Linked DNA regions of Homo sapiens: region 2 is linked to region 1. The links come from fine-mapping of genetic effects on gene expression. A gene starts in region 1. The other region holds a variant in brackets. All regions are shown on one strand. Distances are from middle to middle.

What was found.
Region 2: its variant is fine-mapped to the expression of MPC1 in whole blood (INTERVAL, PIP 0.97).

Annotation. Positions count from the first base shown.
Region 1 is chr6:166,381,820-166,384,319 of GRCh38, reverse strand. It overlaps MPC1 (mitochondrial pyruvate carrier 1), which reads left to right and starts at 1,380. Exons shown (of 5, transcript NM_016098.4): 1 at 1,380-1,514. The coding sequence starts at 1,444. MPC1-DT (MPC1 divergent transcript) reads right to left here and starts at 1,142. Exons shown (of 1, transcript NR_189630.1): 1 at 1-1,142. RefSeq lists silencers at 708-1,447, 1,598-1,697 and an enhancer at 2,058-2,237.
Region 2 is chr6:166,260,816-166,263,833 of GRCh38, reverse strand. No RefSeq gene overlaps it. Among named protein-coding and RNA genes, the nearest start is that of PRR18, 46 kb to the left of the region's middle. The variant G/A (reference allele first, on the strand shown) is at 1,731.

The DNA.
Region 1 (2,500 bases):
AACTCTTGACTTCAAGTGATCCACCTGCCTCAGCCTCCCAAAGTGCTGAGATTACAGGCGTGAGCCACCGCACCCGGCTACCAGAGGAATTTTGTTATATTTATTTGTTTTTTTTGGAGACAGGGTCTTGCTCTGTTGCCCAGGCTGGAATGCAATGGCGCAATCTTGGCTCATTGCAACTTCCGCCTCCCGGGTTCAAGCGATTCTTCTGTCTCAGCCTCCCAAGTAGCTGGGACTACAAGCACATGCCACCACGCCCAGCTAATTTTTTTATTTTTAGTAGAGAGGGGGTTTAACCGTATTGCCCAGGCTGGTCTCGAATTCCTGACCTCAGGTGATCCGCCCGCCTCGGCCTCCCAAAGTGCTGTGATTACAGGCGTCAGTCACCGCGCCCGGCCACCAGAGGCATTTTAAATGATCGTCCACATTAGAAACAAAACGAAACGAAACAACTTGGAAAAGTGAGCAAAAGCCTTCAATGTGTTCTTTTCTCTGCCTTTGTGATCCGAAAGTCGTGCTGCGGTTTATATACTCCTAGGCGAGGGTCGCGTGCTAATGATCCCTTTCTTTTCAATATGCACCCGCGGTGGGACTTACAGAACCTTTATTTTCAACACGTAAGCAGTCACGCTTCCTCGAGCCTAAGGCTTTGTGCTATTCTTAAATGCTTTCCTCCTCCGACGCTGCGGCTCCCTCCTGAGCCCGTAGCTGCAGCGCGTTGGTGAGGAGCGCCGGCCCTGGGTGCCGCCCGCCACCCTGGAGGGACCGGTCCGGGGGAAAGTGCTCGGGAGAAGCCAGGGGCCCCGGCTGCGGTCGCTGGCCCGGGGCTCTGCGCACTCCCCAGTGCCCGGAAACCGCAGGCTGGCCCAGCTTGCGGGCCGGGTCCGCCCACGTGGGTGTGGGAAGCGCAGGGGACGCGGGCCGCCCGGCCAAGGTGCCCTTGCCAGGAACCGGCGCAGACACAGGCCCTGGGCGGCGCGGGAACCCGGCCAGTCCCACCGCGCGCTGCGCCGCAGGGGCCCCACTGCAGGTCGCCCCAAGACCGCGCGACGCTCGGCAGGGCGCCCACAGTCCTGTGGGTCAGAGAAATGTCACCTCCACGTCCCCGCTGGCCGGGAGCCGCTGGAGCCTAGCAACCGCCTGCCAGCCCCGGCCCAGCCCCAGCCGTTTTACGGCAGCGGGCCCCGCCCCCGTGCGCCACCGAGGGCGGGAAGGAGGCGTGCGGCACGAGCCAGCCAGTCCGCGCCACCATCTCTGGCCCTGCGCCCTGTCATTGGCCGAGAGCCGGGCGGCGCGGCGCGGCCGTAAGGCGTGGCCGGGTGTCGTGAGGCGGGCCTTCGGGCTGGCTCGCCGTCGGCTGCCGGGGGGTTGGCCGGGGTGTCATTGGCTCTGGGAAGCGGCAGCAGAGGCAGGGACCACTCGGGGTCTGGTGTCGGCACAGCCATGGCGGGCGCGTTGGTGCGGAAAGCGGCGGACTATGTCCGAAGCAAGGATTTCCGGGACTACCTCATGAGGTGACGAGCGCCGCAGGCCGAACCCCGCAACCCGGAGGGGCTCCCGGGAGGCTGCGACCCGTGCAGTCCGCGACGAGGGCGGCCGCGAGGACGCGGTGGCCCCGGGCAGCGGGTGGGCCGGGGCCCAGGCGAGAGGGTGCGCTTGTCAGGGGGGCCCCACCCGGATCCCTCCCGGACCGCCACACCCCGAAGCGGACGGCGTAGAGAGCCGGTGACAGTGGGCGCCTTTCAGGGCGGGGGTGACAGTGGGCGCCCCTCAGGGCGGGGGTGACAGTGGGTGTCCTCTCCCGGCAGGGTGACAGTGGGCGCTCCTCAGGGCGGGGGTGACAGTGGGTGTCCTCTCCCGGCAGGGTGACAGTGGGCGCCCCTCAAGGCAGGGGTGACATTGAGTCCCCTTCAGGGAGTGGGTGACGGTGGGCGTCCCTCCTGGCCAAGGTGACACTGGGGACGCCTCTCCTGGTAGGCATAACAGTGGACGCCCTTCCCGGCCAGAGTGGCAGTGGGGACCTGGAGGGACGAAAGCGACGGCGCTCCTCAGGACAGGGTGACCATGGGGACGCCTCTCCCGGCAGGGGTGACAGTGGGCGCCCCTCAGGGCAGGGTGACCCGGCAGGGGTGACAGAGGCTCGTTCCTCTCCCATGGTTGGCAGTGGGCACGTCCCTCCGGGCCAGTTGACAGTGGCTCGCTCCTCCGGGCGGGAGTGGTTTCCTGGCCGGTTTCTACCAGATCCTCGGAGTGGGTCGCCGGTCACCTGCGGCCGTCCAGGTGTGCCAGAGGCGGCGACCTGGGTGTGGGGTGGGGAGACGCCAGCGGGAGGCGCTGCTGAGAGCGCGGCGCGGCGCTGTTGGAGCGGAGCTTCGGGTGCGCCCAGCGCGCTTCTGGGACAGCGGAAATAAAATGTGCTGGCCTTGGGTTCGCCTTTCGGTTTTCTCATTCTAAGGACTTTAAGCTTGGGAGGAAGTACAATTTAAGATGTTTTTATATA
Region 2 (3,018 bases), 120 kb after region 1:
CTGTGAAACAGAGATGGGCTGCTGGTGGTCACTGGGATGTTGCAGAGTCCTCAAGAGCAGGTTTCCCTGGGGTGGAAATCTAGCCAGGCCCTGGGCAGGCTTACCAGGGGCCTCATCTGCATCCCCTCAGAGGTCTCTGAGATAAGGAGGGATGAGGGTACCCAGGACTTCTGAGGACACCTGTGAAGAGGTCTCTGGTAGCAGGACCCCGATACCCCCAAGAACACCCTAAAGATATGCCCTTGACTTGAAGAATGGAGCCATCAGCAGTGGAAAGAACACTTTCGATGTGTGATGGTGTTAAAATACATTCCACCTTTGTTTCTTGGAACTTAAAGCAAATTCTTGTAGAGGACGGTAACTGAAAGAGCTGCCCCTTAGTTTGGAGATGGGGTCCTATCATGGTGGAATCTTCCCCAAGCCCTCCCACCTCCATTCCAGGAAGAGACAAGAGCTGGGGTGTCATCCAGCAGGAAGAATGGGGGCGCTGCTCCCCTTCTGCTTGAGCCTGAGTTGGCAGGCTTGCTGTGGCTGCGGGGATGGCAGCTGCGCCTCCTGCACAACGCAGGATCACAGCCACAGCAGTGGGGACCTAGACAGCTGGGGCCACTAGACCAGGCCACCAGACAGACAGAGGGCTGGAGAAATGCAGAGGTGGCAGCAACACACGCAGGCAGGCAGGCAGGCATCAGGGGCTGTCAGCAAGAGAACCTAAGATGCTCGTGGCAGTAGAAGTGGGCCCCTGGAGCGGCCCGGCAGTTCCTGGGTTGGTTCTGCAGACCTGAAGCTCTCCCAGGTCCTCGAGGACCTCAGGCCTTGGCCTTCCTCAGCTCTCCTCAGAGGTTTGACCACTTACTCTGTCAAATGAGGTAATGAAAGGGAACTGGCGACAGGTTTAGAATGTATTACACAATAGGCCGTGAGCGGTGGCTCACGCCTGTAATCCCAGCACTTTAGGAGGCCGAGGCAGGTGGATCATGAGGTCAGGAGTTTGAGACCAGCCTGGCTGATATGGTGAAACCCCATCTCTAGTAAAAACACAAAAATTAGATGGGAATGGTGGCGTACGCCTGTAGTCCCAGCTTCTTAGGAGGCTGAGGCAGAAGAATCACTTGAACCCAGGAGGCAGAGGTTGCAGTGAACTGAGATCATGCCACTGCACTCCAGCCTGGGTGACAGAGCAAGACTCCGTCTCAAAAAAAAAAAAAAAAACAATGTATTATACAATAATAATTATCTATACGGAAATGTTACACTCAGGGCATGGGAATCAACTCCAGAAAGAAATCCAAAGTTCTAAAAGTATAAGATATCATAAGCCTGGAATAATGAAATGTGGGAGAGGAAGTGCTGAAGAATCAGGGCCCGCTCTCACATTTACACTCTGCACACACTATGCACTAATCACAAGCAAGGCCAATCGCGAAAAGCAGGGCTTTTTGAATGAAAAAATTCGTTCATCTCAACGGTGGAGATGTTCATTTTTGCTTATTGGAGATAAAATAATATAATCAGAGACATCATAGTTAAGCTTAACAAAATAACATTATTAAAAACTTTTATACACAATGAAAAGGAACTTTGTTTTGTAAGAGACAATGAAATCTGAAAACAATAAATGTAAAAAGATGATACAGGTTTACATCCAAAATGCACACGGATTGATATGAATGTATAGGCATGAACATATAATCCACACTTTGCTAAACAAGTAGTCAAAGGATACTTAC[G/A]CTTTACACATCAGCAGTAACCACGTATATTTATAGATTATGTGAAGCCTCATAACCTCTTCTTCGTGACGTAAAGGGCAGGTGTGACCATCCTCTTTCCACGCACTGGATACTGAGAAACGAGCTTGGTGCAGGCATCCTGGAAAGCAGTCTGGCTGTCATAATGGAAGCAGGGCCATTGTCCCTATGCTTTGGCTTCTTAGTGTTTTTTGAAAACTATAATTCAGGGGTATGGTGAAAATATTTGTACTAAAGCTATTTTTTTTTTTTTTTTGAGATGGAGTCTCGCTCTGTCACCCAGGCTGGAGTTCAATGGTGTGATCTCAGCTCACTGCAAGCTCTGCCTCCCGGGTTCACACCGTTCTCCTGCCTCAGCCCCCCGAACAGCTGGGACTACAGGCGCCCGCCACCACGCCTGGCTAATTTTTTTTGTATTTTTAGTAGAGACGGGGTTTCACCATGTTAGCCAGGATGGTCTCGATCTCCTGATCTCGTGATCAGCCCGCTTCGTCCTCCCAAAGTGCTGGGATTACAGGCGTGAACCACCGTGCCTGGCAGTACTAACGCTATTGATAACAGCCAAGTTAGCAATAACTCAAATGTGCAACCATTGAGAAATGCATGTATCACACTGCGTTATGCTTATCTTTTCACATAATGTATGTCTCCTGGCTAGATGAAAGTTTGGGGTTAGGAACCTTATCTCAGTTATTTTTATTTCCTTGGCATTTGATAGAATCTGGCACATAAACACTCAATCAATGTTTACCAAGAGGAAATTAGCTGAATTGAAGTAGGTAATTGGGTGTAACAAAGTTACCATAATTATGTAAATTATTATGTGCTACATGGAAATATATACACAATATAATTAAAAAATCAAAACACCAAACAAAATGTGTGCAGCAATTCCAACTAGGTAAATTATAGATGTCTATCATGAGAGAAAGCATCATTTGTAATAATGGTAAGACAAGTCTGGTTGGAATCACAGTGAGACCTTGTTCTAGTTTTTTAACAAGCCTCAGTTTGTTCACCTGCGTAATTAAATATCTACTTTGCAAGGCTGTGGTGACTATATATTCAGTTAAACCCACATGGAGTATAGAACAGAGTTTGGCTTATAATGTGTAAAGCAGATAATTGTTAAGTAATAATGAAATAGATGTTCTAAAGAAAATAGAACCCAGCATGGAGCCTGGCACTCGGTAGGTGCTCAATAAATAGAAATCACTTTTGTTATTTTTAGAAATAGAGGGGGACATAGTGATGTTCAGAGTTAATGAGT